Linked DNA regions of Homo sapiens: all the other regions are linked to region 2. Evidence: fine-mapped expression QTL. A gene starts in region 2. Each other region holds a variant in brackets. All regions are shown on one strand. Distances are from middle to middle.

What was found.
Region 1: its variant is fine-mapped to the expression of LINC00930 in thyroid (GTEx, PIP above 0.99).
Region 3: its variant is fine-mapped to the expression of LINC00930 in whole blood (TOPMed, PIP 0.96).
Region 4: its variant is fine-mapped to the expression of LINC00930 in tibial artery (GTEx, PIP 0.98).

Annotation. Positions count from the first base shown.
Region 1 is chr15:92,594,859-92,597,544 of GRCh38, reverse strand. No RefSeq gene overlaps it. Among named protein-coding and RNA genes, the nearest start is that of LINC00930, 24 kb to the right of the region's middle. The variant G/A (reference allele first, on the strand shown) is at 1,184.
Region 2 is chr15:92,571,076-92,573,761 of GRCh38, reverse strand. It overlaps LINC00930 (long intergenic non-protein coding RNA 930), which reads left to right and starts at 1,499. Exons shown (of 4, transcript NR_021493.1): 1 at 1,499-2,576.
Region 3 is chr15:92,807,203-92,809,888 of GRCh38, reverse strand. LOC124903558 (a long non-coding RNA gene) reads left to right here and starts at 5. Exons shown (of 2, transcript XR_007064767.1): 1 at 5-243; 2 at 880-1,984. RefSeq lists enhancers at 220-339, 276-1,126 and a silencer at 500-739. The variant T/C (reference allele first, on the strand shown) is at 1,488.
Region 4 is chr15:92,760,037-92,762,722 of GRCh38, reverse strand. No RefSeq gene overlaps it. Among named protein-coding and RNA genes, the nearest start is that of FAM174B, 110 kb to the right of the region's middle. The variant A/G (reference allele first, on the strand shown) is at 1,477.

The DNA of each region.
Region 1 (2,686 bases), 24 kb before region 2:
GGAAGGGCTGCCCTTTAAGAACTTGAATTTAAAGGACTTCAGTGGTTAGTTGTAAAAGTGAATGACGTACCAAGGGCTTTTATTTATCCCTAGAACTCCTGTAATTTCCAAGATGCATAGACTGGAAGAAGATAGCCCTGCTACTCATACTTGAAAGAAAGGAGGAGAGGAGAGGTTGGCCCACCTCCCTCCTGCTCTCCCTCCCTTTCCCAGGCCTCCTTCTCTCTCTTTGCCTTGTCCCTAGCAGGGAAGGAGATTGGAACAGGCAGCCTTTGGGGACTGTGGGACCCTCTTCCTGATAGGTCAGATCCACAGTGGCCCAGGAAGGCCCTACCTGGACAGCGAATAGTGTCTCTAGGGGGAGGGAAGTTTCCTCCAGGTGGGACCTTTGGTCACATGGCCTCACATGGTTTATGTCTCAGAGTGACAGGTGTCGCTTGTTATAAGACACAAGAGTAAAAAGCAAAGAGGAGCAGACAAAGGCAGGTCCTCAAGGGAGGTGGGCTCTGCAGGATTCCCTAAGAGCCAAAAAGGCACAACAAGGGAGCCCAGTGGCACTGGTAGGCTTCTGAGCATAGGCATTCCAGGGCTTTGTTATTATTTTTTCCAAATGGAAACCTCTTTAGAAGATCAACTGTCATAATTTGCCCAAGCTACAAGCTCAAACATGGCTAAGAAACATTGCTCAAGGTCATTTCCAAAAGCACGTTCTTCCAGCTTTTCGAGGTCGGGGCGGGGATTTGTGTTCTGTTCTCATTTTTGCTTGTGTCTTTGCCCATGGTTGAACTGAAGAGGTCTCTCCAGGCCCAGTGTTCACCGGAAGAAGGGGAGATGGGAACTATTCCCAGCCACTCTTCTCTCAAGAACTGATGGGGAGTCATGGGTCCCTGCCCCACTTGTCCATGTGAGAGGGAAGCAGGTGTGCTTTTACCAGAAAGAGTTCTCGAGGGGTTAGCACCCCAGGAATGCATCTATGCTGACTCTGCTTATCATGACTCCCCACCTTCAAAATACATCTTAGGGTCACCGCACATCCCAGAAAGTGGCAACACAGGGGCACCCCTCGATGTGCCGAGTATCCAGAGTCACGTTCTTGGAAGGCGTGACCAGCGTGTAATTTAAGCAAATGGAATCTTTCCCAAATGTCTTCTTTTACAACTGAAAAAACAAATTAAGCAACAGA[G/A]GAAAAACAAATCCAGAGAAATAGCCTCTTCCGGGGAAGTCTGACCTCCCTGTCTAGAAGGTGAGGACAGTGCTGCGGCCGTGTTTCTGCTGGCTCCGGCCCGAGGCTGTCTCCCAGACAGCTGCTGTCCCACTGAATTAGGTTCAAGCGAACACGGCCATTGAGATCCAAAGTATTTCTGGCTGGTTTGGGCGTGGGTCCTTTCTCTAGATGAATATTTTAATGTGGGAATTCAGAGGAAAGCTATGGGGAAAGCAGTGTTGGTCAACTGACGACGCTAAAGAACCACCTTCGGTGGTTGTCACGGTGAGTTTGGCACTGAAGGCTCTTTGCTGTTCTGACCTGAAGCTCTCTGTTAGGACTTCCTGCTATTTTTCTCACAAGCCCTCATTTTCGCTGACAGTTCAGATCATGCCCTGTGCATATCCAGTTCCCCCGGTAGGCACGGCTCCTCCTTTCACCTCAATGCCCCGCTTTCCGCTCGGCCCACACTGGACTCTTGCTACCTCTTGTTTTGGCTTATGTTTAATCTTACTTTTTTAAAGCAACATCTTCTGATTATGAAATAATTTATACTTTTTTTTTGCAGAGAATGTGGAAAATACAGAAAAGTATAAGCAGAAGCATAAAAATTATTCACAGTTGCACCCTTGGAGGGAGCTGTCCTATAAATCTTGGTGAATTTGCTGCCCTTCTTTTTTCTGTGGATCTGTCTATTACATGTGATAGTTTTTAAAGCTGATGTCATGTTATTGATGTAGTTTTGCTTCTTGCTTTATCCATTGAAGACTATAATGTGAGAAATTTCCTCGCTGGGGCTCTTCCCAAACCTGATATTTACTGACCACACCAATATTCAATTGAATGAGGGAGTGTCATAATTCAATCACTTATAGTTTCCAGAAACGTTGTGCTCATTTACATTTTCCTTAGCAGCATATGAGGGTGCATGAATCCCATCATCACAACGCAATGGAATTAGGGAGAAATGCCAGTGAAAGATGAAGAGAGATGAGGCAGGACTAGCAGGAGCGCCTCAGACCCTCATTTCTGCAGGCAAGAAAGGAAAGGATCCTGTGGAAGGGTCTCCCACTGCTGTGTGATTCTAAAAGCTTTGGGCAGGGGATAGGGAGTCTCCAAACCAAAGCCTGGTGGCCATTCTGTGACAGGCAGGAGTGGGCTGCTATGAGGACCCTGGTCATGTTGAAGCTTTGGCGGGGGGTCACCAAGAGGTGGATAGCTGGAGCTGTCAGTCAACTCTGCTTCCCAGGGGCAGATTCTCTCAAAACAGACCAGAACTATAGCCCTTGCTCTCCCATGCCCACCCCACTTCACCTGATAAACAGGAAATATAATTAAAACATATAATTATGAACTGTGAAAATGGTCTAATTTTGCTGGTTTTCATTCTTCTGATTAACCTTGATGTCAAACATTTCTCATGAATTTTGTTACATACTTGTACTTCTAAGAATTGTGTGCCTGGGTTCTCTGTTTGCCCGT
Region 2 (2,686 bases):
AGTTTGAAGTGTCTTTTTGAGAATCAGAAAGGGGAGAGGATATAGGGGGCAAAGGATGTATTCTTTGAGATCCTGCTCTTAAGCAGTGATTCTTCTCTAGCACTCCTTATTTCTAGAATTTTCTAGCCATCTCTAACAAAAGCAAAGTGCAAAGAGCATTTAATACAAACCAAAACATGAAATGATCTTTTGATAGTTCAGTGTTGTGGCTGTGACTTGGAATTTTTCACTACATTTAAAAAAAAAAAAGCCACATATGCCCGGGTAGTCTCTGCATCAAGTCTGATACCATTGCTCCGACGTTATGAGGCTGAAGCAGTTGTGGCTGATTGATGTCACTCTTCTAGCCATCTCCTATTTCCACAGAGAGAGGCCGGGTTAATCCAACTCCAGTCTAACTTCGGAGGCATCAAGGATTCTAGGCAGCATCTCCCGTGTTTCTTTTTCCAAGTGAATTCCTGGAGGAAAACAATGAGGTCCATGTGTCTTTGCATCCCCAGGGACCAGCTCAGTAATGGGCGTATAAGAACACGCTGAAAAAAATTGTTTTGTTTTTGAACGACAGCGATTTAAGAGTAGTAAGGTCCTCGTAAATATAGGACATTGTACTCGTGTTTTTCTTCCGAGCATACAAATATTTGCAATGAGGTTGCACCGCAGACTCCACAGCCATTGTGGCACCTGGGGCTCTGTGACTTGGGAGGCAGAGGAGATGGAATGCCGGTGAGAAGAAGGAGATTGTGGTGTGAATGTGAGGGATGAGGGTGAATTAGCTTCCTACGGCGGCTGTTACAAGTTTACCACAAGATAAATGAGTTAAAACAGTACAGATTTATTATCTCACAGTTCTGGAAGACAGAAGTTCAAACTACTGGCAAAGTTCAAAGTGTTGGCAAGGCTGTGCTCCTCAGGAGGCTCTAGAGGAGAACCTTTTTCTTGCCTTTTCCTGTTTCTAGGGGCCACCGGCATCCTTCGGCTCATGGCCTCTTCCTCCATCTTAAAAGCCAGCTTCTGCAAATTCGTCTCTAATTCTGACACTACTTCTCTTGCCTCCCTCTCTCACTTATAGGGGTCCCTGTGATGACAGTAAGCTCACCCTGATAATCGAGGCTAATCTCCCCATCTTAGGGTTAGCCTATTAGCAACCTAAATTCCACCGGCAACTTTAATTCCCCCCTTGCCATGCACCGTGACATATTCACAGGTTCTGGGGAGGAGGGCATGAGCATCTTTGTCGGGGCATTGTTCTGTCCATCACAGAGAAGCACTCAGAGATTCCGGACTCCAGTATCCTCATTGTACACTTGAGGAAGCTTGGGCTCAGAGGCTTTATGTTAATTCCAACAGTTTTTGCAACAGGAGGAGGAGAATATCTGTCCAGGAGCCCTAATCAAGACTCAGCAGGAAGCTGGTGGCTTCCTTTCCTTCCTTCTTTTGCTTCCTTCCTGTTCTTCCTGTGCTTCCTTTCAGTTCTTCCTTCTACATATGGGGCCCATCACATTCCCACTGACTCAGATGCTGAGGGGCCAGACTGAAGGGACAGTGGCCATTGCATCAAGTCAGAGAACGGATCTGACCCATCTAGTAGAAGCTTATTGTTTTGGCAGAAGCACAAGCTCTTAGAGGTGCAGCTGCAGGGTGTGACCTATTGGGGACATTGAGCTCAGTGACCATGGGCCCTGAGAGTCTGAAATCCTGGAATTTCTCCCAAAACGAAGTCCATGTAGGGAAGCCAAAGTGTGAGTCTTACCCGGCTGGTTTACAACTGACTGACATTTGCTGCCTGGGCAGCTGTTGTGGGTGCCTGGAAACCCTATTGGACTAGGACTGGCCCCGGCAAAAAACAAGTGTTATAGCTGCCCAGTGTCCTCTGAGTGGATGCTGGTGATTCTGGTATGGAGCCCAGATGTAAGGCAGCAGGTGGTCCAGAAGGCACCAGAAGAGGTCTCCTGTCAAAGTCAGGGCCAGAGAAGAAGGCACAGGGAACCTACTGCACGAGACTTTCACTTGCAACGAGCAACCCATGATGAGGAGGGAGGATTCCTGGGGGCATTGAGTCCCCCAGACACAAGGACCCAAGACCTTCTTGCTTGGAAAGTGAATTCCTCAGAATTCCGAGATGATGCCAGTCTTGGAGGAAGATGACATGAGGACCCAAAACCTTCTTGCTTGGAAAGTGAATTCCTGAGAATTCCGAGATGATGCCAGTCTTGGAGAAAGATGACATGAGGACCCAAAACCTTCTTGCTTGGAAAGTGAATTCCTCAAAACTCCACAAAGACTCCAGTCTTGGAGGAAGATGACATGAGGACCCAAAACCTTCTTGCTTGGAAAGTGAATTCCTCAGAACTCCACGAAGACTCCAGTCTTGGAGGAAGACGAGGTGTTGAGAGATAGCTGGGATCCCTGAGGAAGGCAGCCCCAGTCTCCGGTGGAGAATTAAGAGGGGCCCAAGCAGATGGTTGGTGGTGGAAACGTCACCTCAGTATAGTACTATGGAGTTTCCTTTCACCCCCAACAGCCGACGGTTTCCAGGGGCGAAGAGTGAAAATTGAAGCAAGGTGTCTACTGTCCAGGTGAGAGCCACATCCTATGGCTGAGGGCCTGGGGGCATTGGGGACCACCAAGAATGAATACTTTTCCAATTAAGTGAAGTCTTTTGCACAATATTCCTGACCAATAGCTA
Region 3 (2,686 bases), 240 kb before region 2:
TCTCCTTCGTTTGGAGGAAGGTAGGGTTTGTTCTAACGCTTTGCACAAAGGCGGGAAACGGTCATCAAAGCTGTTGCGAAGGGAAGAGCCAATGCATTAATTCGATCCAAGAGGACTCGCCTCGTTGGATTTGCAGCAACCTAATCTCTCGCTCAGGAAGAAAACGCCACGATAAAGAGTTTTCTGTCCTCCTTGTTTGCACGGAGCAGCAAACGCAGAGACAAAAGAAACGGGCCCCGACTGGTAAGCACGCTGGCAGCTTTGCGGAACTGCGCCGCGGGATTCCCCGCAGGGCCTGGGTCGATGAACTCCGACCAGGCGGAGGGCGCGTCCGCTTGGCGCGGTTGTCCCCGCCCAGGCCCATGTTCAGTCGAACAGCCCCCACGGCTGGGTAAAACCACTCAGTTCATCTCGCCCGGCTCCTCGAACGCGGCCCTTTAAGGGGCTCGCAGCCTCAGGGACGCCGGGCTGACCCCGCCCCCGGCTGCCGCCATCTTGTTGTTTTCCCCTGTCCCTCCGGGCCGGCCACGTGGCACGGCTCCGCGGAAGCGAAGGCACCGCCCCAACTTCCGGCAGGACTGGTTCTAGCCGCCCGCGGGACGCAGACGCGCGGCTGCCCCCTGGCGGCTGGCCGCGGAGCTCCGGCCGCGCCCTGCCCCGCCTTCCTCCGCCATTTCATTCCCTGCCTGCAGCACGTCCGCGTTCCGCCACCAGCCTTGGCGCACAAGCGTGCTCCGAGGGCGGGGCCGCTCCGGGCACCACGCCTAGTGCGGGAGCGTTTTTTAGTCTGGTTCACCGAGGGCTAGAAGGTCACCTACATGTTTACACACATTTAATTTAATTATTAATTTTTTATTTTGTTTTATATTTTTGAGACAGGGGCTCACTCTGTCCCCCAGGCCGGAGTGCAGTGGCGCGACCACAGCCTTCTGCAGCCTCAGCTTCCGTGCTCAAGGGACGCGCCCGCCTCAGCCTCCCAACATGCTGGGATTACGGGCGTGAGCCACCGCCCGGGAACAACTTAATTAAAAAAAAAAAAGCCATACGGTTGCCTCGAGGTATTTTGGTATGCGGTGCTTGGTGCTTCCAGACTAACACATGAGGCCCCAACCTTGGTTTTCAGACCTGGCTTCTGCCCAGAGCCCCAAGCCATGTCAGACCAGGGCGTTTCCCAGGCGGTCCCGGGTCCGCAGTGCAGGGTGGCGCTGGGGGCGAGGGGGACGACGAGCGCGGGGTGGGCACGGTGCGGCCGGGGGGCTGGGGAGGCGCACGGGGCGGGGTGCAGCTCCAGGGACCTGGTCAGCACCCTTTACCAGTCCTATTTCTTGGTTTTCTGGACGTTCTTCTCTCCTTGGAGCTGCTCTTGTCTTTCCCATTTCATCTCCAAACCGATTTTGATTTCCTGAACGTTTGTCTTGAGCAAGGCCTGCGTTATCTTAGGTAATCCTCCTAGCAGCCTTTGATATGGAAGCTCTTTCTACTCACAC[T/C]GGCGCTCAGCAAGAGTAATTTGTTCATGGGGTAGAGCCTGGTTGGAATCGAGGGCACGTAAGTTTCCACTAGACATTGAGGTTCTCAGATAGTCCTCCAGCCAGGCAGCATCTCCAATGTCGGGGAGCTCGTTGGAAATGCCAGTGTTAGGAGTCTATCCCGGACCTTCTAAATGGGAAATTCTGAGGACGGTGGCGGGTGGGGCCCGAGAAGCTGTGATTACTAGGCAGCAAGGTGATTCCGAGGCACACTGAAGACCCCTTTCCCTCACAGCCCTTCTCAGGGTAAGGAAAGGGAGACTTGTCTTTATTGAGTGCTGATTCCATGGCATTTTGCATAATTCTGTGATGTAATCCTCCCTACCACTCTTTTATAGAAGAGGAAACTGTAGCTCAAACTTTCCATGAATTTAGAGTGCCAATATTTATGTAAAATGATACGATTGTATGTGCCTTTTGCTTGTACCATGTATGCATAAAATATCTCTGGAAGAATATTCAGGTGTTAACATAGTTTTACCTCCGGGGAGAGAAGGATGTAGGTTGCTAGGGTGACTGAGTTGGGATTTTTTTTTTTTTTGGTAAGATTTAGTAACTTGTGGCCGGGCGCGGTGGCTCACGTTTGTAATGCCAGCACTTTGGGAGGCCGAAGCGGGCGGATCACAAGATCAAGAGATCGAGGCCGCGCGCGGTGGCTCACGCCTGTAATCCCAGCACTTTGGGAGGCCGAGGCGGGCGGATTACGAGGTCAGGAGATCGAGACCATCCTGGCTAACACGGCGAAACCCTGTCTTTACTAAAAATACAAAAAATTAGCCGGGAGTGGTGGCGGGTGCTTGTAGTCCTGGAGGCTGAGGCAGGAGAATGGCGTGAACCTGGGAGGCGGAGACTGCAGTGAGCCGAGATCGCGCAACTGCACTCCAGCCTGGGCAACAGAGCGAGACTCCGTCTGAATAAAAAAAAAAAGAAATTGAGATCATCCTGGCCAACATGGTGAAACCCCGTCTCTACTAAAAATACAAAAATTAGCTGGGCGTGGTGGCACGCGCCTGTAGTCCCAGCAGCTCGGGAGGCTGAGGCAGGAGAATCTCTTGAACCCGGGAGGTGGAGGTTGCAGTGAGCCGAGATGGCGCCACTGCACTCTAGCCTGGGCAACAGAGCGAGACTCCCTCTCAATAAAAAAAAAAAATTTAGTAACT
Region 4 (2,686 bases), 190 kb before region 2:
TGTTGGCTGGTCCCAGAAGCAGGAGGTGGCAGAGAAGATGGTCTGGAGGTTGCAAGTGGAGGGGAGATTGGAGAGGAGTCAGAGGCTGGAAGATAGGGAGGCTGGGTCTGGTCCATCCAAACACTGTTTTTTTTTTGAGATGGGGTGTCTCTCTATCGCCCAGACTGGAGTGCAGTGGCGCGATCTAGGCTCACTGCAACCTCTGCCCTCTGGGTTCAAGTGATTCTTGTGCCTCAGTCTCCCAAGTAGCTGGGATTACAGGTGCATGCCACCATGCCTGGCTAATTTTTGTATTTTTAGTAGAGACAGGGTTTCACCATGTTGGCCAAGCTGATCTCGAACTCCTGACCTCAAGTGGTCCACCTGTCTCGGCCTCCCAAAGTGTTGGGATTACTGGCGTGAGCCACCACGCCCGGCCAAAACACTGTTGAAGCAAGAGACAGATCCACAGTACAGCAGAATGCACTGCCCACTATTTCTTTTTTGAGACAGTCTTGCTCTGTCGCCCAGGCTGGAGTGCAGTGAATCTTGGCTTACTGAAACCTCTGCCTCCCGAGTTCAAGTGATTTTCCCGCCTCAGCCTCCTAAGTAGGTGGGATTACAGGTGCATGCCACCATACCCGGCTAATTTTTGTATTTTTAGTAGAGACAGGGTTTTGTCATGTTGGCCAGGCTGGTCTTGAACTCCTGACATCGAGTGATTTGCCTGCCTTGGCCTCCCAATGTGTTGGGATTACAGGCGTGAGCCACTGCACCCAGCCAGCTTCTGATACTACACTCACACAACTGTGATCTTCACCATTGTCAGGCAGAGGTAAATGAATAGCAGGGATAAGCAGGTTGCAGCATTTTAGATGGAGAGAAGAAAGAGACAGGAGAAGAATTTCATAAGATGTTAGTCTACTTGCTGAAAAATGCTGAGTTTGGTTGGAATTTAGTAGACTTTCTACAGCATTTGGGACATGAAATTAAGTTTATTTCCTAAAACCAGCTCATATGAAGCTTCTACCACTAGGCTTCTGCTGCTACTGCTTTTAAACAATTAGAATATGCCTCAGCTACTAGGTCTAATTGTAGGCTATAATAGGCAACGGGCCTGTTTCCTCCCATGTTTTTGGGTAAGAACTCCTAATGCCTGATGTTAGGTTTCGAAATGAACAAGGTAAAAGATTTAGCCTGATTTGAAAGTCATAAAGCTGGGGGGTGTTATAAGGCCAATTTCATGGTGAAAAGCCAGCTCATGACTGTCTTCTTAAGGTAATGGCTCTGGGACTGTGTTTCTAGTGAGCTCATACAATGGTGAAGACATCACAGAAAAATTCAGGGTCCAGGATCTGCAATATCCTGCAAGTGTAAGAAACCCTCTTAATTGTCTTTTGGTTGCAGGCTGAGAAAAACTGAATGGTTGAGAGAGAAATCCCTTCAGCAGTCAAGTCGTATCCCAAATAGTAAATTAATTAATTAATTAATCTATCT[A/G]TTTTTGAGATGGAGTCTTCCTCTGTCGCTGAGGCTGGAGGGCTGGAGTGCAGTGGCATGATTTTGGCTCACTGCAACCTCTGCCTCCAGGGTTCAAGCCATTCTTCTGCCTCAGCCTCCCCAGTAGCTGGGATTACAGGCACCTGCCACCATGCCTGGCTAATTTTTGTATTTTTAGTAGAGATGAGGTTTCACCATGTTGGCCAGGCTGGTCTTGAACTCCTGACCTCAGGTGATCCACCCACCTTAGCCTCCCAAAGTGTTGGGATTACAGGTGTGAGCCACTGCACCCAGTCCCAAATAGTAAACTTTTTCTCTCGATGTAAAACTGAAGTTTTTCCATCACAGCTTTGTGACCTATATGTGTGAGTTGCTGTAAAGTAAACAGAGTCAATTTCAGAGCACTTTTTTTTTTTCTCATTCAACCCCTTTGGTATCAGAGCACTCTTATTTATTTTACAGTTTTATTTTTTTACTTGTTTATTATTATACTTTAAGTTCTAGAGTACATGTGCACAACTTGCAGGTTTGTTACATATGTATACATGTGCCATGTTGCTGTGCTGCACCCATTAACTTGTCATTTACATTAGGTATATTTCCTAATGCTATCCCTCCCCCCTCCCCCCACCCCACAACAGGCCCCAGTGTGTGATGTTCCCCACCCTGTGTCCAAATTTTCTCATTGTTCAATTCCCACCTATGAGTGAGAACATGCAGTGTTTGGTTTTCTGTCCTTGAGACAGTTTGCTCAGAATGATGGTTTCTAGCTTCATCCATGTCCCTACAAAGGACATGAACTTATCCTTTTTTATGGCTGCATAGTATTCCATGGTGTATATGTGTCACATTTTCTTAATCCAGTCTATCATTGATGGGCATTTGGGTTGGTTCCAAGTCTTTGCTATTGTGAATAGTGCTGCAATAAACATACGTGTGCATGTGTCTTTATAGCAGCATGATTTATAATCCTTTGGGTATATGCCCAGTAATGGGATCGCGGGGTCAAATGGTATTTCTAGTCCTAGATCCTTGAGGAATCGCCACACTGTCTTCCACAATGGTTGAACTAGTTTACAGTCCCACCAACAGTGTAAAAGCATTCCTATTTCTCCACATCCTCTCCAGTCCCTGTTGTTTCCCGACTTTTTAATGATCCCCATTCTAACTGATGTGAGATGGCATCTCATGGTGGTTTTGATTTGCATTT